4 linked regions of the Homo sapiens genome follow. The protein of the gene in region 4 purifies or fractionates together with the protein of the main gene of each other region. This does not show direct contact. Each region holds a gene or a part of one and is shown on either strand. Other genes may lie near its edges.

The links.
Region 1: the proteins of RNF10 (region 4) and ATAD2 purify together in Homo sapiens (co-immunoprecipitation; one large-scale study listed by IntAct). This does not show direct contact.
Region 2: the proteins of RNF10 (region 4) and LSM14A purify together in Homo sapiens (co-immunoprecipitation; one large-scale study listed by IntAct). This does not show direct contact.
Region 3: the proteins of RNF10 (region 4) and HAUS2 purify together in Homo sapiens (affinity purification with mass spectrometry; one large-scale study listed by BioGRID and IntAct). This does not show direct contact.

The regions. Positions count from the first base shown.
Region 1 is NC_000008.11:123,388,937-123,393,996, forward strand, and holds part of ATAD2 (ATPase family AAA domain-containing protein 2), read right to left. Parts: intron 1-5,060. UniProt on the Homo sapiens protein: May be a transcriptional coactivator of the nuclear receptor ESR1 required to induce the expression of a subset of estradiol target genes, such as CCND1, MYC and E2F1.
Region 2 is NC_000019.10:34,174,955-34,180,014, reverse strand, and holds part of LSM14A (protein LSM14 homolog A), read right to left. Parts: intron 1-5,060. UniProt on the Homo sapiens protein: Essential for formation of P-bodies, cytoplasmic structures that provide storage sites for translationally inactive mRNAs and protect them from degradation. Acts as a repressor of mRNA translation. May play a role in mitotic spindle assembly.
Region 3 is NC_000015.10:42,551,289-42,556,348, reverse strand, and holds part of HAUS2 (HAUS augmin-like complex subunit 2), read right to left. Parts: intron 1-5,060.
Region 4 is NC_000012.12:120,560,742-120,566,318, forward strand, and holds part of RNF10 (E3 ubiquitin-protein ligase RNF10), read left to right. Parts: coding exon 1-145; intron 146-2,203; coding exon 2,204-2,329; intron 2,330-2,590; coding exon of another isoform or gene 2,591-2,605; coding exon 2,606-2,882; intron 2,883-3,068; coding exon 3,069-3,202; intron 3,203-4,330; coding exon 4,331-4,448; intron 4,449-4,686; coding exon 4,687-4,788; intron 4,789-5,577. UniProt on the Homo sapiens protein: E3 ubiquitin-protein ligase that catalyzes monoubiquitination of 40S ribosomal proteins RPS2/us5 and RPS3/us3 in response to ribosome stalling.

The DNA.
Region 1 (5,060 bases), on a different chromosome or scaffold from region 4:
TAATTCTTTTTGTGCTTTGCTGTTTTCTTCTCTCTCTTTTTTTTTTTTGACACAGAGTCTCGCCCTGTCGCCCACGCTGAAGTGCAGTGGCGCGATCTTGGCTCACTGCAAGCTCCGCCTCCTGGGTTCACGCCATTCTCCTGCCACGGCCTCTAAAGTAGCTGGGATTACAGGAGCCTGCTACCACGCCCGGCTAATTTTTTTTTTTTTTTTGTATTTTTAGTAGAAATGTGGTTTCACCGTGTTAGCCAGGATGGTCTCGATCTCCTGACCTCCTGATCCGCCCGCCTTGGCCTCCCAAAGTGCTGGGATTACAGGTGTGAGCCACCGTGCCCGGCCTGTGCTTTGCTGTTTTCTATTCATCCTCAAGGACAAGCAGTCCCAACCTCTTAGCAATTCTGGCATAAAACTCCCAATGGTCGGCCGGGCGTGGTGGCTCACATCTGTAATCCCAGCACTTTGGGAGGCCAAGGCGGGCGGATCACGAAGTCGGGAGATTGAGACCATCCTGGCTATCACGGTGAAAACCCAGTCTCTACTAAAAATACAAAAACTTAGCCGGGCGTGGTGGCGGGCGCCTGTAGTCCCAGCTACTCAGGAGGCTGAGGCAGGAGAATGGCGTGAACCCAGAAGGAGGAGCTTGCAGTGAGCCCAGATCGCGCCACTGCACTTCAGCCTGGGCGACAGAGCAAGGCTCCGTCTCAAAAACAAAACAAAACAAAACTCCCAATGGTCTACTGCTCACTTCTTTAGCTGGAAACAACGTCTTCCCTCCCTGTGTTCAAACAACTCTCAGATCCTGTGCTGTATTATTGGACATTTTTCTCCATTCCTACTAATACCACCTTAACTTAAACTCTAAGGATCTAGGAATCTAGAATACTTAGTATATGGATACTAGATACTAAGAATCTAGTAATGAGGATAATAATAGTTTATAAACAGGAGAAATATATGTGTCTTATCAAGTACTATGCCTGGTACACAGCAACTGCTATATAAGTGGTAGCTATTACTATTATTTTATATATATATATATATATATATATTTTTTTTTTTTTAGACAGAGTCTTGCTCTCTTGCCCAGGCTGGAGTGCAATGGCGCAATCTCGGCTCACTGCAACCTCTGCCTCCAGGGTTCAAGCAATTCTCCTGCCTCAGCCTCCCCGGCACCTTGGATTACAGGTGCACACTGCCACATCCGGCTAATTTTTGTATTTTTAGTAGAGACGGGATTTCACCATGTTGGCTAGGCTGGTCTTGAACTTCTGATCTCCGGTGATATGCCTGCCTCGGCCTCCCAAACAAAGTGCTAGGATTACAGGCATGAGCCACTGCACCCAGACTACCATTATAATCTTTTAACTGGTCTTCTTAGCTCTAGGTTTTTGTTAACTATAATCCATCCGAAACACTGTCTCATCAGATCCCTGTTCTAGCTCTTCACTGTCTCCCACATAAAGCTGTAACCTCTAAACCTAAAATCAAGGGCCCTTTCTTGCTTATGACTGAATACAGAACTGCCATGTCACCCAATTCCAGGGAACACCATTCACTGCCACACCCAGAAGCTCCCTATCTATGCTTTGTGATACTTCATTAAGCTATATACTTTTCATGTTTCTGTACTGTGTTATGCTTTAAGTTTTTAAAATCTCCTGTATGTTACACATATTGGTGTTGAGTTTTGAGTATCTTTCCAGACTTTCAAATAAACATACAATTTTTAAAATAGTACCTTCTACATACTGCAGAATGTTCTATTTTACCTAACACACAGAAAAGTAAAAATGTAGGTAAACAACCCAAAAGTAGGCCAGGCGCAGTGGCTCACGCCTGTAATCCCAGACTTTGGGAGGCCAAGGCAGGTGGATCACCTGAGGTCAGGAGTTTGATACCCCGTCTCTACTAAAAATACAAAAATTAGCTGGGCATGGTGGCAGGCGCCTGTAATTGGAAGGCGCTTACAGCTACTCCGGAGGCTGAGGCAGGAGAATTGCTTGAATCCACGAGGCAGAGGTTGCAGTGAGCAGAGATTGCGCCACTGCATTCTAGCCTGGGCGACAAAAGCAAAACACAGTCTCAAAAGAAAAAAAAAACCCAAAAGTAATGTACGATCATCATCAATTTAAAAAAAACACCCTACTATCCATCCTTAAGTGACTCTTCAACATGAGAAACAACCCTAAATTTACAGAAACCAAAGAACCTCAGACCTTAGAAAACAAAGAAAGTACAGAAATAGACAATGGCTACTCTGATTCTGGAAGAAAAAGAAACTACAGAAAAGATATCCATAGTCATAAAGTTGGTAGGATGAAAATAGAAGTTTTAAAAAAACAACAAAAAACAAACTTAGACCACCACCACCACAATATTCAGGGAACCCATACAAGTCAGGAAAAAACAAAAACACAAATCTATAAGCCCAGCTGAATGAGAACATATTCAAAATATAAAAATACAATGTAGTTAATAAATAGGTGACTAAAAGTAACTTCAGAACTTGAAGATAAGATCAGCCTGATCAGAGGTAATGAGAAGTTTTGAAAAAAAAAAAAAAAAAAAAAAAAAAGGTCAGCCTGAGATTAGACTAGGAAAAATTCAAGTTAATGAATTAAATGAATAAATGTAACCACCCATAAAAGCAGCCTAGCCTAAGAAATGCTCTGTCAATAAATATGTGGCTGAGGAAACTAAGAAATATCCAAATATAATCAGGGTGATCAGGGAGTGAAGTCTCTGAAATGCATGATTGATGTAAAACAGCAAGGTGTAATCCAACCAAATGTATTGAATGTAAAGCCCCCAAATCAGAAAATATTCCAATTACAGAGGCATGTTTCATTTTTGGTACTGATGGGCTTGTCAGTATGAATACATTACCCCTAAAGACCACCGATTTATTTTAATCCAATCCCATGCTCATTATGTAACACTGTGATTATAATTTGGTCTACACAGACACCTTGATGTATAAAAGGGAGGAGAACTTTGTCTCAAAAAGGTATAATGCCTGCTGGGAACTGTGGTGGGGGTTGAGGGGGATCCTTTCTACCCTACAACATCCAGCAGAGTGCATTCTAATTGCTCAACCACCATATACCACAAATACGGGATTTATGGCAAATAGTCTCTGTATATTGCTGTTAGGTCTCCTCTGCTAGACTTGTATCTCTTTAGAGTAAGAACAATCAACAACAAATATTTAATATACACTTACTTCCTGCTAGGTTCTGTTCTAAGTGCTGGGATAACATTGCCAAAAAAAAAGTCAAAATCCAAGTCCCCGTGCAGTTACATTCTGATTGGGGAAGAGAGAAAAATACTTAAAAATAGAAAAGTACAGAAAATGTTGGAAGGTGACAAGTGCTAGGAGAGGCATGTCAGGAGAGTGGTTTGTAATTTTAAATATGGTGCTTATGGTAAACATCATTGCAAAGGTGAAATTTTAGCAAAGACTTGAGGTAGACAGACTCCTAAATTTGAATCATAGTCACACAGCTTACTATAAGGTGAATTTGGGCAATTTATTTAAGTCTCTGTGCATCAGTTTTCTCATAAAAAAAAAATCTTACCTACCTCATAAGGTTGTAAGGACTGAGTTATTTATTTGTACAATTTCTGGACCACACTAAAGTACTATAATTCCTGAGGTTTTGTTTTTTAGTTTAAAATAATGTAAAAAAAAAAAAAAGTTAAAAGAATGGGTCATGCAGATATCAAGGGGAAGAGTATTTCCAGCAGAGGTATACCAAATGGAAAGGCCCTGGTATTAAAGAAGCAGCTATGCCAGTGTGGCTGGAATAGAGTGCGTTTTGTAAAGGGGTAGAAAAAGATGTCATTATAAAGGATGCAGGGATGCTTAGGGCTGCTTCCAAACTTACAGACTTTTACTTAGATAGGGAGTCTCAAGAGGGTTTTAAGTGATCAACTGTTTTGACTTTTTAAAAGATTCACTGCATTTGCTGGGCGCGGTGGCTCACGCCTCTAATCCCAGCACTTTGGGAGGCCGAGGAGGGCGGATCATGAAGTCAGGAGATCGAGACCACCCTGGCCAACACGGTGAAACCTTGTCTCTACTGAAAATACAAAAAATTAGCCAGGCGTGTTGGCGGGTGCCTGTAGTCCCAGCTACTCCGGGAGGCTGAAGCAGGAGAATGGCGTGAACCCGGGAGGTGGAGCTTGCAGTGAGCCGAGATTGGGCCACTGCACTCCAGCCTGGGTGACAGAGCGAAACTCCATCTCAAAAAAAAAAAAAAAAAGATTCACTGCATTAAGAACTGACTATTGGTGGGGCGTGGTGGTTCACACCTTTAATCCCAGCAATTTGGGAAGCTGAAACTGAAGGATTGCTTGAGTCCAGGAGTTCGAGACCAGCCTGAGCAACATAGTGAGACTCCATTGCTACAAAAAACTTAAAAATGAGCTGGGTGTGGTGGCGAGCCCCTGTAGTTCCAGCTACTTAGAAGGCTGAGGTGGAGAATCACTTGATCCTGGGAGGTTGAGGCTGCAGTGAGCCACGTTGGTGCCACTGCACTCTAACCTGGGTGACAGAGCAAGACTCTGTCTCAAAAATAAATAAATGCATAAATAAAGAGAACTGACTGTTGAGGGAAGGTGGGGCATAATATATATATCAAACAGTGGAAAACGGGAAGGAGGCCAATCAAGAATCTATTATAATCCAGGAAAGATGGTCAGGCGCGGTGGTTCATGCCTGTAATCCCAGCACTTCGGGAGGCTGAGGTGGGCCGATCACCTGAGACCGGGAGTTTGAGATCAGACTGGCCAAAACAGTGAAACACCGTCTCCACCAAAAACACAAAAATTAGGTAGGCGTGGTGGCGCATGCCTGTAATCCCAGCTACTTGGAAGGCTGAGGCAGGAGAGTCACTTGAACCCGGGAGGCGGAAACTGCAGCAAGCCGAGATCACGTCACTGCACTCCAGCCTGGGTGACAGAGCAAGATTCTGTCTCAAAATAATAAATAAATAAATAATCCAGGAAAGAGATTATGGCTTGAACCAGCATGGCAACACTGGAGGACATATAAAGTG
Region 2 (5,060 bases), on a different chromosome or scaffold from region 4:
CCAGGGAGGTCAAGGCTGTGATCGTGCCACTGCACTCCAGCCTGGGCAACAGAGTGAGACTCTTGTCTCAAAACAACAACAACAAAATTTACTTCAATGGTATCTAGTTTTTAAAACAGCTAATTAATATATTATTTTATAGCATCATGAGAGAAAGACAAATTGTTTCTATAGCAAGCATCTTCTAGCACGGAATAATTAAATTCAAGTTAAACTATCTGTAGTTACTGCTATTATTACTGTGGCACTGAGTTAAATACAAAACTCCTGCTATGTATCATGCACAGATAAGATTTCTTTTTTCTTCCTACTTCCTTCCTTCTACTATTTTTTTTCTTCAGTTTTATGCTGTTTTCTTTACTTCCGACTTAGAAAATCATGGCTTACCTTACTTACCCCTACTAGAAAATGAACAGTTTCTGGCACCTGACTTCAGACTCCCAGAATTACCAAGTATTTCTGCGGACTATGTAACAATAATAAACTGTTTCCAAGGCTCCAAGTACTGGCAACATCACTAAATAGGGCAACAAAAAGAAACTGTGGCTTGAAGTTTCACTAGATCTTTGTCATTTTAGATAGTAATTTTGTGAATTGCTAGATTTAGATCCCCAAGTAATGCAAGAAATCAAATAAAGCACCCCGCAAGTATTTTATCCATCACACAAAGCTCTTCCACTCTCTCCAATAAGGTAATAGTTTATGACTATGTGACTAACATCAAGAAGTAGATAAATTATGCCAATGAGCCAGACTTAGCAGATGATTAAAGAAATCTGTTAACAATTTACTTGTTTTTCTATTCTTCCACCAATCTCTTGATTTTAAGAACAACTTATTTTAAAGGCAAGTGGCTTATATAATCGTTCTTCATAAAGTCTCTTTTCCCAGTGCAGTAGCAACCTGGTTTCCATTTGAATGATTATCCAGGTAAGCTAACTAAATGTAAGAATTTATTTTTTATAAGAATTTCATTCATTTTAGCCTATTTAGGCATCCTACTCACTTATAGACGTAGGTGCAAACACAACTGGAACTATTCCATAAAATATTCATACATGTCACCACTGTGTAATTTCTTCCTACACCCTGAATGGAGGCTTCCTTTAAACTTTAAATGAAAATTATAATTGAGCTTGAGTCACAAAGAGTTTACCTCCCCAATAATGTTAATTATGTCACTAGATTTCATCCTCTTGCATCCCTACTCACTGAAATTCTTCAAGATTTCTTAATGTGAGGCAGGATAATTTAATTTTATAGGGAAATGCAATTGTGAACATGGAAAAGCATTATTTGGAGGTATACCCAAGATACTTCTACAAGAACAATAAGCTAAAATGCTAAATCATTTCCATTTACTCACTAACTAAACAACCTTTCATACCAGGAGCTCAGAGTCTGGAGGTGAAGGGGAAGGTGAAGACAGACAATAAACACATATGCAAATAAGCAAAGAAGATTAAGTGTAAGTCATGATCAGTGCTGAGAAGAAAATAAATTCAGAGCTGTGACACAGACTACAAACTGCAACAAACTGCAGAAACAAACTGCAACACAGATCATCTATAAACATACATAGCAGATTGACATCAAAGCCTTTCTAGGTTGCCTTTATGACTTCTTGACATATGCTTAGGTTCCGAGGATCAAAGCCCCTCAAACTTACCTGTTTCACTTTCTAGAACTAAAGCTAGTCTGTGACATCTCTAGCAGAAAATAAGGCACATCGACCATTTCACAGCACCTCTGCAATTAGGCTTTTGATTATGTGGTGTGATAACTTATCCACACTGAAACATTTTCAAAAGAGAAAACAGATTATTATTATTATTTTGTGTTTTTTTTTTTTTTGAGACAGAGTCTCGCTCTGTTGCCCAGGCTAGAGTACAGTGGTGTGATCTTGGCTCACTCTAACCTCCGCCTTTCAGGTTCAAGCAATTCTCCTGCCTCAGCCTCTCAAGTAGCTGGGATTACAGACATGCACCAGCACGCCCAGATAATTTTTGTATTTTTAGTAGAGACGGGGTTTCGCCATGTTGGCCAGACTGGTCTCGAGCTTCTGACTTCAGGTGATTCGCCTGCCTCAGCTTCCTGAAGTGCTGGGATTACAGGCTATCATTGTTATTTTTTAAGACAAGGTCTTGTTCTATGTTTCAGGCTGGAGTGCAGTGGCATGATCACAGCTCCTCTTGGGCTCAAGCAATCCCCCTGCCTCAGCCTCCCAAGTGGCTGGGACGACAGACATGCATGCCACCATGCTTGGCTAATGCACTTTTTAAAATTTTTTGTAGAAATGGAGTCTCCCTGTATTGCCGAGGCTGGTTTTGAACTCCTGGGCTCAAGCAATACCCCGGCCTTGACCTTTTGGAAATGTTGGGATTACAGGCCTGAGTCACCCTGCCCAGCCGGGATGTTTTTAATAATTATGCCAGAGCAGGCACAAACAAGGACTTTCCACCAGGGCAAACTAGGCCATATGGTTACCCTAATTATATACCACATCAAATGTAAATAGCCAAAAATTTCAAGAGTAGTTTATAGTTCCAGATATATTTAAATTATAATATCCAAGCCCTAAATTATAATATGGACAATATAAACCAAGTGAATCCCTTACTAAATATAAAGCTCTGAATATCTCACATTGTACACAAAATCAATTTCAGATGCATTATAAACGTCAATGTGAAAAAGCAAAGCACAAAAAGGTTTAAAGATAATCAAAGTATCTCTATGATGTTTTAAAAAAAGAAACACTAGCCATAAAAAACTGATGAACATGTTTACATTAAAATGAAGAACTTCTGTTAATTTAAAGAAACTACTAAATGGAAAAAATGTTTGCAATATATACATCCAACAATGGAGATATATTCAGAATACAGAACTCTAGAAAAAGACGTGTTTCGATTTAAAAAAGGAAAAGATTTCAAAGGCATTTTATGAAAAATGAAATCCAAACACCCAGATATGAAAAGCTGGTCAGCCCCATTTAGTAATGAGGGAAATGATTAAAACTAAATACAACTACATACCCACCAGGATTGGCTAGAATTGAAATATATGATACCACGTACGGTTGTTGGTAAGGGATATGAAACAAGAACTCTTACATACTAATAAATGAAGTAAAAACCACTAAACAACTACTTTGAAAAACTACCTGGCATTACCTGATAAAGACCAACATTCCCCATGTTCTTGCAATTCAAATTCTAAGTATATAATCTCAAGAAAACGAAATAAACATGCACCAGTGCACTTAAACAGAAATGTTCATAAAAGCATTGTTTATAATAGCCCCAAACTGCAAACAATCTAAATGCAATATCCAAAACAATGGCAGAAGGAATAAACTTGTGTTATATTCATGATGGAATATTATGAAACAATAAAAGCTAAAAATAAAATATATACAACACAATCCTATTTACATAAAGTTAAAAATGGGCAAAATTAAACTCTATTATTTAGAGATGTAAACTTATATGGTAAAACTATAAATGTCAGAAGAACATTTATATCTAGCTTAAATTAAGATGGTGATAGTTGTGATGGGAAAATATAGGTGGTGGGAGGCTTCTGGGATGCTGGCAATGTCTGTCTTGCCCTGGGTGGTGGTTACAAAGATGTTTGTTTAAAAATATTTCATTTTTATCTTATGTATCTTTTCAGCCTGTGTAGTTAGGTTTCCCAATAACACTCTCCCTGAGAAATTAAAAAAAAAAAAGTTCAAAAGAGAATGCTAAGACTGTTACTCAAAGAGATTAACTCTTAATCCATAGTTTAAAAACAGTAACAGGGATCTCTACATCCAAATACACACTGTATTATAAATTCCATGAATAAACTTTTGGCTTCAGGCCGGGTGCAGTGCCTCACACCTGTAATCCCAGCACTTTGGGAGGCCAAGGTGGGTGGATCATCTGAGGTCAGGAGTTTGAGACCAGCCTGGCCAACATGGTGAAACCCCGTCTCTACTCAAAATACAAAAATTAGCCAGCTGTGTTGGGCGCCTGTAGTCCCAGCTACTCGGAAGGCTGTGGCAGAACTGCTTGAACCCGGGAGGTGGAGGCTGCAGCGAGCCAAGATCGCACCACTGCACTCCAGCCTGGGCAAGAGCAAGACTCTGTCTCAAAACAACAACAAAAAAAAACGAAAACAAAACAAAACAAACACTTTTGGCTTTAATCTTTTAGACTACCATTCTTCGTTCAAATTTTGAAATGGAAGGTGAAATTTTCTGATATCGAATTACTCAACAAGTCATGTAAATTTTAAAATTTTAAGATTGAACTCCTTGCTTCTAATCTTGAAATCTGAAATGTGTCCAGTATTGACTAGACAGTTATAATGTAGTTTTCGATTAGATAATATCATGTAGACTAATATATAAAGGTTTGATAATGTCAGTTTTTGCGAACATAATCAAATTCCCCAAACTGGTTACACATTTAACTCATGTTGCTTAAGAAAAAGCAGCCGGGTGCGGTGGCTCATGCCTGTAATCCCGGCATTCTGGGAGGCTGAGGCAGGTGGATCACTTGAGGTCAGGAGTTCAAGACCAGCCTGGCCAATATGGTGAAAGCCTGTCTCAACTAAAAAATACAAAAATTAGCCAAGCGTGGTGGCACGCGCCAGTAATCCCAGCTACTCAGGAGGCTGAGGCAGGAGAATTGCTTGAACTTGGAAGGCAGAGGTTACAGGGAGCCAGGATTGTGCCACTGCACTCCGGCCTGGGCAACAGAGTGAGACGCCATCTCAAAAAGAAAAAAAAAAAAGAAAAAGAAAAAGCATATAATGATGTGGGATGAAATATCAAAGCCATGAGTACAAACATAAATTCAATGATTAAAAAAATTTTTCACTGCTATATTCATATATTTATCAAGTCATGACACAAAGAACAAATTTATATTTTATGTCATTATGTCATATGAATTTAACTATTACAGACTAATGAAATACTGACTCTAAAAGCTGCTGAAAAGTTTTTTAAAATGTGGGTTGTTAAAATGTAGACTTTTGGGGTTCCTGCATAAAAGGATATGTTCGTA
Region 3 (5,060 bases), on a different chromosome or scaffold from region 4:
AGGTTGTGGTGAGCTGAGATTGCCACTGCACTCTAGTCTGGGCGACAGAGTGAGACCCTGTCTCAAAAAAAAAAAAAAAAAAAAAAAGCCTGGGCGCAGTGGCTCACACCTGTAATCCCAACATTTTGGGAGGCCATGGCAAGTGGATTACCTGAGGTCAGGAGTTTGAGACCAGCCTGGCCAACATGGTGAAACTCTGTCTCTATTCAAAAAAAAAAAAAAAAAATTAGCCAGGCGTGGTGGCAGGCGCCTGTAATCCCAGCTAGTCAGCTAGTTTGGGAGGCTGAGGCAGGAGAATTGCTTGAACCTGGGAGGCAGAGGTTGCAGTGAGCCGAGATCGCGCCACTGCACTCCAGCCTGGGTGACAGAGCGAAACTCCGTCTTAAAAAAGAAAAGAAAATGATCTGAAATTCAAATTTCATGGTCCAGAAATAAAGTTTTATTGGAACATGACTTCTCTCATCCATTTACACACTATCTCTGGCTGCTTTTATACAACCACCTAGTTGTGTAGCTGCAACCATATGGCCCACAAAGCCTTACATATTTACTCTCTGGCTCTTCATAGTAAAAGTTTACTGTCCAAAAATAATCAATTTTATGAACACTTACTGAGTTAGTCAACGAAATATTCAAATATGAGTGAAACAAGCTCTCTACCCTCATGAGGCTCATAATGGATGGGAAGAAAAAGGTATTCTAGATAGAAAGATCAAAAACATTACAAATGCTCAATAACCACCAGTGTTAGCATATATGTGAAAAGAGGGGTAAGATGTAGCTGAAAACATAGTCTCCAACATAATCATAGATGATCCTGAGTGCTATGCTCAACAATCATACTGCAGAAAATGGGAGCAACTGAACATTTTCTGGTGAAGAAGTAATATAATCATACATAATACTTATTTAGAAATACAGGCTGGCATGATGGCTCACACCTGTAATCCCAGCACTCTGGAAGGCTAAAGCAGGAGAACTGCTTGAGCCCAGGAGTTTGAGACCAGCCTGCACAACACAGGGAGACCCTGTCTCTACAAAAAATTAAAAAAATTAGCCAGGCAGCCGGGCGCCGTGGCTCACGGCTGTAATCCCAGCACTTTGGGAGGCCGAGGTGGGCAGATCACGAGGTCAGGAGATCGAGACCATCCTGGCCAACATGGTGAAACCCCATCTCTACTAATAATACAAAAATTAGCTGGGTGTGGTGGCGTGCCTGTAGTCCCAGCTACTCGGGAGGCTGTGACAGGAGAATCGCTTGAACCCAGGAGGCGAAGGTTGCAGTGAGCAGAGATCACGCCATTGCACTCCAGCCTGATGACAGAGAGAGACTCTGTCTCAAAAAAAAAAAAAATTAGCCAGGCATGGTGACATGTGCCTATAGTCCCAGCTACTTGGGAGGCTGGGGTGGGAAGATCCCTTGAGCCTGGGAGATTGAGGCTGTAGTGAGCTGTGATCATGCTACTGCAACTCCAGCCTGGGCAACAGAGTGAGACCCTGTCTCAGCGGCGGCGGGGAAGGTGGGGATATTTAACTGGGGCAGTATGAAAAATAAAACTGGCTGGGCGTGGTGGCTCACACCTGTAATCCCAGCACTTTGGGAGGCCGAGGGGGTAGATCACCTGAGATCAGAAGTTGGAGACCAGCCTGGCCAACATGGTGAAACCCTGTCTCTACTAAAAATACAAAAATCAGCCAGGCATGATGACATATGCCTGTAATCCCAGCTACTAGGGAGGCTGAGATGGGAGAATCACTTGAGCCCAGGAGGCTGAGGCTGCAGTAAGCTGTGAGCGCACTACTGCACTCCAGCCTGAACAACACAGAGAGACTCTCTCTTAAAAAAAAAAAAATACACCTACAAAACAAACAAAATAAAAACACTAATGAAGAGGGAGGAGGGAATAGGGAATAGTACAGAGTTTACATCTGGAGTGATAAAGATGTTTTTGAAAATAGTTGCACAATATTGAGTATAGTAAATGCCACTGAAGTGTACATTTTAAGACAGTTAAAATAGTAAATTTTATGTTATATGTATTTTACCACAATAAAAAAAAAAGAAGGAAAACCCTGGTAACTAGCTAACATAAAGAAAAAACACTAGTGGAGAAATAGACTGGAGAGGTTGGATATTTAAACAGGTGGCTGCTACAGTATTCCAGGTAAGGATGAGAATGTGGACTAGGTCAGTAACAGTTAAAAAGGAAAGGAAGAAAAGATGGGAGTTCCTGCAAAGATGGAATTGACAAATCTTAGTTGATATGGTAAGGGATAAAATCCAGTTAATACTCTAAGGATTTTGCTTCAGGTGAGTGGACAGAGTTATGCCATTCACTGAAGTAGATAACACAAGATATTTTACTGATGGCAAAATTGAGGAACAGGAAAGTATTACTCCAACTTCACACTGCCAGTGTGTGCCAAGATGGAAGTGAGAACACATCTAATCCACTGCCCTTCCATCATATCAGCTGACCCTTTTTTCTTTGTTTCTCTCAGGAGGTAAATGAAAGTAAAATATTTTCTACAATTTATCACATTGTAACCAACCTGTTCACTGGTATATCTCCCTCTCTCCATGCTTACACACTAATCTTAGTTGTACATCTGGCAAACTAGTAAACTGTCGGGTTCAACAATAGAGTAATGGTGCTTAGCTAAGAACATGCAAGAGAAACCAGAGGAAAAATAAGAATGTTTAAGAAGCAGATAACAAAAAAGGAGAGAAGAAAGAAAGAGGGTCAGGTGCAGTGGCTCTCACCTGTAATCCCTGCACTTAGGGAGGTGGAGGCTTATTTTCCATAATAAATAGGAAGTACAACTATTTGAGGATTGAGACTTAGTTTAACACATTTAAAAAAAAAAAGAAAAAAGTATCAGGGATTGGGGAATACAGAAAAGTCTTTTCCTTTAGCTATTGTTACTATATATTGCTATTACATGCCCCAAAGGGCAAAAGAACCCTGAAAATGAAAGGATCCTGAGAAAAAGGAGTCTATTCAGGGTATTTCTGTTTATTCCGTGGCTAGGCACAAGAAGAAGCTCAAATCCAGAACCTTTATACTTAATATAAAAATCCTGGCCTGTAATCCCAGCACTTTGGGAGGCCGAGGCAGGTGGATCATGAGGTCAGGAGTTCGAGAACTGCCTGACCAACATGGTGAAACCCCGTCTCTACTAAAAATACAAAAATTAGCCGGGCGTGGTGGTATGTGCCTGTAATCTCAGCTACTTGGGAGGCTGAGGCAGGAGCATTGCTTGAACCCGGGAGGCGGAGGTTGTGGTGAGCTGAGATCGTGCCATTGCACTCCACCCTGGGCAGTAAGAGCGAAACTCCATCTCAAAAAAAAAAAAAAAAAATCCTGGTAACATTATATACCATATATGTATGTATAAACTTGTAATTGGTGGGCACTCTTTCTTCTTTTTCCTATCCCTTCCTTTTCATACTGAATTCTAGCTGAGGGACATTAAAAGGGAGGTAGTATAGCAGAGAATTTAAGAGCAGAGGCTCTCAAATGGGAGAAGAGGTATAGAGGAGAGTAGGACACAAGTTAAGAAAACAGAATTAGTAGATTCTGTGGGTTTTTTGGTAGATCCAGACCCTGATCTTATTAATTGCCAATAAGCAATGATCAAGCTTTGGTCAAGACTCCATGACTCACTCACACTTGCTGGAAAAATATCTAGAATGTAAGGCCACTAAAGCAGTCCCTAGGGGAATAAACTAAAGCAATACCCCATTATCCTACAGATAGCCCTACCTTTCTTTCACCAAATCACTCTCTAACAGATTGAAACAAAACTTCAAACAAGCTATGTTTTCTAGAAGAGTTGTATCAAATCACAATTTTAGGAATCACTCAATTTTTAAAAAATCCTTGCCAGCAGGAACTCAATAGTCTTAATTTTTAATGCACAAAAAATGATGTGCATTAAAGGGATGGGCTGTTTGAAGGGATGACGTGACAAATCATTTTGAAAGAATCAATGCTAAATCCTTCTAATAGGAAAAGGTTTTTGGCTGGGTGTAGTGGCTCATGCCTGTAATCCCGGCACTTTGGGAGGCCGAGGCGGGTGGATCATTTGAGGTCAGGAGTTCGAGACCAGCCTGACCAATATGGTGAAACCCCATCTCTACTAAAAATTAAAAAAATTAGCCGGGCGTGGTGGTGCGCGCCTGTAATCTCAGGTACTCAGGAAGCTGAGGCAGGAGAATTGCTTGAACCAAGGAGGCGGAGGTTGCAGTGAGCCAAGATTGTGCCACTGTACTCCAGCCTGGGCAACAGAGTGAGACTCTGTCTCAGGGAAAAAAACAAAAAAAACAAAAAAAAAGAGACAAAAGTTTTTATGTATAAAGTTTGCTTAAAGTAAAACCAACCTACAAGTCTGTAAATAGCTCCCTCATTGGGACTAGCTGTGTAGTAAGGTTGTCAGAAGTCTTAAGGAGCTATGGAGTGGGATCTTAAGGAGCTATGGAGTGGGACATGTTAACTGTAGGTAAAACCAGTAACTGTCTAATTAATGTTACTTGAGAGACAGTAGACACCCCCAAGACAACCACCACCCCCAAAAAAGAGTTCACCCATCAATGCCTGAAATTCTGTCACCAGTGCCTTACTCCTTTGGTTTAGGCATTTGTATTTCCTACCAATGCTCTTTAGAGGGATACCAAGTACCAAAAGTTGGGGGGTTGTTTTTTTTTGAGACAGGGTCTTACTGTGTCACCCAGGCTGGAGTGCAGTGGCACGATCTTTGCTCACTGCAATCTCCACCTCCAGGGCTCAAGCGATTCTCATGTCTCGGCTTCCCGAGTAGCTGGGATTACAGGCACCTACCACTATACCCGGCTGATTTTTGTATTTGTAGTAGAGACTGGGTTTCACCATGTTGGCCCAGCTGATCTCAAACTCCTGACCTCAGGTGATCCACCCGCCTCGGCCTCCCAAAGTGTTGGGATTACAGGAGTGAACCCTCAAAAATGTTTTCTATTATGAGTTTGCCAAACTATTTTGTGACAGGAGAACTGGACAATACAAGTGAGAGTACTAGGTAAC
Region 4 (5,577 bases):
GTACTCCAAGTTGCTGCTGGCCTCTAAGGAGCAGGTGCTGCACCGGGTAGTTCTGGAGGAGAAAGTAGCACTAGAGCAGCAGCTGGCAGAGGAGAAGCACACTCCCGAGTCCTGCTTTATTGAGGCAGCTATCCAGGAGCTCAAGGTGAGAGGATGCATTGGAGATGCTAAACCTTTTCACTTTCTCGGCGTTCTGTGGTGAAAACCAGAAATGCTAAACCTTTTCACTCTGTCGGGGGTGAGATGATGGACGCTGGGGATTAAGTTAGTTCCATTCCACATTTAAGACAATAAGCAGAGAATGGCTAAAAAAGCCAATTTGTTTTGGGCTTTGTTTGATGACAGTAGAGAAGGTTTAACCTAGGGCTTTTAAAGCTCTTTCTAGAGCTGAAAGGAGCAAGTCAAAATGATTTTATAACTAATTGTGACAGTGGAGTTTTTTAGATTAGCTATGTTCTTAAAGCAAGTTAGAGTTCTTTGTTTTCTGGGAAAATACTTAAGATTCTATTCTAGAGGTGTTTTGAAAGACATTGTGGAGAAAGTATTATGGCCTGCCCAGTATGCCTTAGGAGTACCTGAAACGGCAAGAATTACACAAGAACAGAATTCCCTGGGTCTTTTATCTTCCACAACAGAGATTCTTGAAGCATCACAACCACTGGTTGTTAGGTCCCACTTTGAGATATTGATTGCATAGGTTAAGCTCAGTAGGCTCAGTAATTTGCATATAACAAGTTCTAGGGTGATTCTGATGGCTGCTCATCCCCAGACCACACTCCTGGAACCACTGATCTAGCTTAGAGCAATAGAAGCCCATATTTATTGAGTGATCAGCATTTGATAGGACTTGTGCTATACACATTTATCTCACTTAAGCTTCTAGTGTGGTAGATAGAACTATCCCCTTTCATGGATGAGGAAACTGAATCCTGGGTTGGGTAATTTGCTAGTAAGGGATGCAGCTGGTATTTGAATTCCCTTCTCCCTGACTCCCAAGGGCTCCTTGGGTAGAGTCCTGTGTATTTAACTTTTGCTTTCTTTCTATAATACGTTGCAGCCGTATTTGTTCAAATGCCATTACAGGCATAAGAAAGGCTACATAGAATTAGAGCTGTCCAGGCTGAGGTGGAGTTAGCTAAATCCTTCCTACTACTCTGGACCTCTGTCTGAGCATAGTTTGTAAAAACTAGGTTAGTTTCATGTTCTTAGATTTCTGTTCTGGAAGTTTTTTGTATAGTGTTGTTTGTGTCAGATTCTCTTTTATTTTTTTTAACTTTTAAGTTCAGGGGTACAAATGCAGGTTGTTACATGGTAAACCTGTGTCATGGGGGTTTGTTATACAGATTTTCACCCAGGTATTAAGCTTAGTACCCATTGGTTATTTTTCCTGATCCCCTCCCTCCTCCCACTCTCCACCCTCTGATAGGCCTCAGTGTGTGTTCCCCTCTATGTGTCCATGTTTCATCATTTAGCTCCCACTTAGAAGTGAGAACATGTGTGCGATATTTGGTTTTTCTTTTTCTTTCTTTCTTTTTTTTTTTTTTTTTTTTGAGACAGAGTTTTGCTCTCGTTGCCCAGGCTGGAGTGCAGTGGCGTGATCTCGGCTCATCACAACCTCTGCCTCCAAGGTTCAAGTGATTCTCCTGCCTCAGCCTCCTGAGTAGCAGGAATTACAGGCATGCCCCACCATGCCTGGGTTATTTTGTATTTTTAGTAGAGATGGGGTTTCTCCATGTTGGTCAGGGTGGTCTTGAACTTCCAACCTCAGGTGATCCGCCCACCTCAGTCTCCCAAAGTGCTGGGATTACAGGCATGAGCCACCACACCTGGCCGTATGTGTCTTTACAGTAGAATGATTTATATTCCTTTGGCTATATACCCAGTAATGGGATTGCTGGGTGAAATTTTATTTCTGTCTTTAGGTCTTTGAGGAATCACCACACTGTCTTCCACAATGATTGAACTAATTTACACTCCCCAGTGTCAGATTCTAAGCAGATTCCAATCCTTAGTGGGTATTGCATGCTTTTTGCTTCCTGTTTCCCTCAAAGTTGAGATATTTAAGCACCTAATTCCTTCCCATTGGGTCTCATTGCCTTTTAACTTTTGGTCCTGTTGAGAGGCCATTCTAAGCCCTTGCCCTTCAAGCTAAGTGTGTGTCTGGAAACTTAACCTTCTCTGGTGTTCTCTCTGGCCACGTTAGACTCGGGAAGAGGCTCTGTCGGGATTGGCCGGAAGCAGAAGGGAGGTCACTGGTGTTGTGGCTGCTCTGGAACAACTGGTGCTGATGGCTCCCTTGGCGAAGGAGTCTGTTTTTCAACCCAGGAAGGTTAGTGTGTTCCTGTTACTAAGTGGCTGCCGTTCCTCAAATGCTGTCATTGAGCTGGTAGGCATTACTGTGAGATCTAAACCTTCTCAAGAGAAGAGGGGACAATGAGTATTTTCTGTATGCTTGTTATTAGTTCTTTCCCCAGGGGTGTTAAATCAGTGAACACGACAGCTAAGATAAACATCTAGGGAGCTTGGCTCTTAGGTCTGCATTTGCCACATTGCTTTCGGAAAGCAGGAGATATCCTTTCTGTTGACTTAGAGTTTGCTGCAACAGGGTGTGCTGGAGTATCTGTCTGCCTTCGATGAAGAAACCACGGAAGTTTGTTCTCTGGACACTCCTTCTAGACCTCTTGCTCTCCCTCTGGTAGAAGAGGAGGAAGCAGTGTCTGAACCAGAGCCTGAGGGGTTGCCAGAGGCCTGTGATGACTTGGAGTTAGCAGATGACAATCTTAAAGAGGGGACCATTTGCACTGAGTCCAGCCAGCAGGAACCCATCACCAAGTCAGGCTTCACACGCCTCAGCAGCTCTCCTTGTTACTACTTTTACCAAGGTGAGGGTGCCGGAAGAGAGGGCTGGGTTGCCGCAGAGGTGTTTCAGAGGTGACCCGGTGCTCTAAGCAGAGGAGCGCCACTAGATCCTGTGGCTTGGGTGGCTTGAGCCCTTGGGCATGGGGAGGGGTGGGGAGCCTCCTGGGGACTGGCCAAGACTGGTGTGTGATAGAGCCCCTTGTCCTCAGCGGAAGATGGACAGCATATGTTCCTGCACCCTGTGAATGTGCGCTGCCTCGTGCGGGAGTACGGCAGCCTGGAGAGGAGCCCCGAGAAGATCTCAGCAACTGTGGTGGAGATTGCTGGCTACTCCATGTCTGAGGTGAGGCCTTCCTGTAGAAATGGAGGGTCAGGCAGCAGTATTAACCTAATCTCTTTGAGGTAGGCCTAGCCATCCTAAGTTCACAAACCTTCAAGGCCTTTAGTTTTTGTATTTTTAGTCTTTCTGTCAGTGATGGTGCTGTGAATTCTTTGTAAGTGAAGTGTCCCCTCAGCATGCCAGGGTTCTGTTAAATCAGTTAATGCTGTTCCCTGCTTCTCTGGTTCATTGATTGTAGTTTGGGGATATAGATATTTCTTTTATTTAAGATGGAGTTTATTTTTGTTTCTTATCCTCCTTATTGCTTGGGAGAAATGTCACAAATTTGTTGTAAGATTTAAAATTAGACTCTTTGAGTACTATAAATTTTTCATCAAACATATGCAGAAAAAGAATAGAAATGAAAATAAATGGGCTGGATGTGGTAGCTCACACCTGTAATCCCAGCACTTTTGGGAGGCCTACTCAGGCAGATTGCTTGAGGCTAGGAGTTTCAGACCAGCCAGGGCATTTCTACAAAAAATACAAAAAAAAATTAGCTGGGTATGATGATGTGCACCTGTTGTCCCAGCTCCTCAGGAGGCTGAGGCAGAAGGATCACCTGAGCTGGGGAGATCAAGTCTGCAGTGAGCTGGCCTGGGCGGCAGAGCAAGACCATGTCTCAGAAAAAAAAAATTGGGCTTCATTTTCTACTATTTCAGGCCAAGTGTCTTTCAATAGGGAGATCTGCTTTATCTTCCTTCCCAGTTATTTATTCTGTCAGTGGTTCCCAGGTTTTTTTCTGTTCTGTTTTTCTGCCAACAAATAACTTTATCTTCTCTGTTCGTCCCCCTCAGCTGTGGGGCCTTGAAAAAATCAGAAACAGCTGATGGGCTTTAGATTATTTGTTGCTGGACTCAGTTCACTCCTTTGCAGTACAAACCAAAAATAACTGGATTTGGTTGCTTATTCCACCTTGCTGTAGGTTGACAGTTTCTCTTTGGCTTTTCAAAATGAGGATAATTGAGCACTACTGTTTCCAGCCCCAGTGCTGGCTGTGTTATGTATATATTGTTGGATATCGGGGTTAGGACCCCCTGCTTTCAGAGTTAGGCTTGCTTTTGTTGAGTATTGGTCCTTTTTCCAATGTAGGATGTTCGACAGCGTCACAGATATCTCTCTCACTTGCCACTCACCTGTGAGTTCAGCATCTGTGAACTGGCTTTGCAACCTCCTGTGGTCTCTAAGGAAACCCTAGAGATGTTCTCAGGTGAGAATGCCCCTGCTCTGCTTCTCTTTATAGTAGGGTTCAGGGATTCTTGTGGCTAGACACCCAGTGGGGGAGGAAACTTATGGAACTGTATCATGAGTCTTAGTACCTCCTAAACACTTCATCTGTTCATCTAGTCCAGCTGGGCCTACTGTTGTGGGTTTAGCTGCTAATACTGGGAGGAGGTAATGACCATGTTGTCCTGGGTCTACCTCTTTACAACCTGACCAATCTGCAGATGACATTGAGAAGAGGAAACGTCAGCGCCAAAAGAAGGCTCGGGAGGAACGCCGCCGAGAGCGCAGGATTGAGATAGAGGAGAACAAGAAACAGGGCAAGTGTAAGTTCAGGAACTTTCATCTTTGACTAGCACTGCTGTACGTCGTTGTATAGAACTCTGTGTCTGGGACCTGGGAGCCAGACCTTAGCCACTTGTTTTCTTCAACTTTTAAATGTGAATCATGAGAGCACCTCCTTAATAGGCTTGCTTGCAAATATAATGAGTTAATATGGGTCAAAGTGCCTAGCACATAGTAAGGATTAAGAGGAAATTCAGCCTTGGTAATAGTGGGTGATATACACCTGTTCCAGAGATGGGAATTGGGGCTTCGCTAAGAATGCTGGGGGCCATCGTTCCCCATGCTCTCTGGATCACTGACCTTACCTCTGACTCTTTATTAAAGGGACCAGCTATACACAGCAAGTCTGCCAGGTGGGTCTGATAAGATGGAAATTTTGATAGACTAGGAAATGCAGGAAGTTGGATTTAAGAGATCTTTCGTAGCAGTAAGCACAGCCTTTTGATCTGGTTCTCCAAAATAAGTTTCATTGAATCCAGGGGATTAGTGTGACCTGAGGTCCCATTATCCACTAGAACACAAGGAACTGAGTCCTTGGCCCAGAAAAGGACTTCGGTGTTTTGACTCCATATGGCATGGAAACATACATTTTATATCTCAAGTGGGACAAGTGTATACTTGGGGTCCCAACACCGTGTAGGTGTTTGGCACATGTCCTGAACTTTGAGAAAACTGATATTTCAGGAATAGGATTTTTTGTTTTCACCTTTTTATTATGGAAATATCAAGACAAGTAGAACAATGTAATTAACCTGCATGTTTGTTACCCA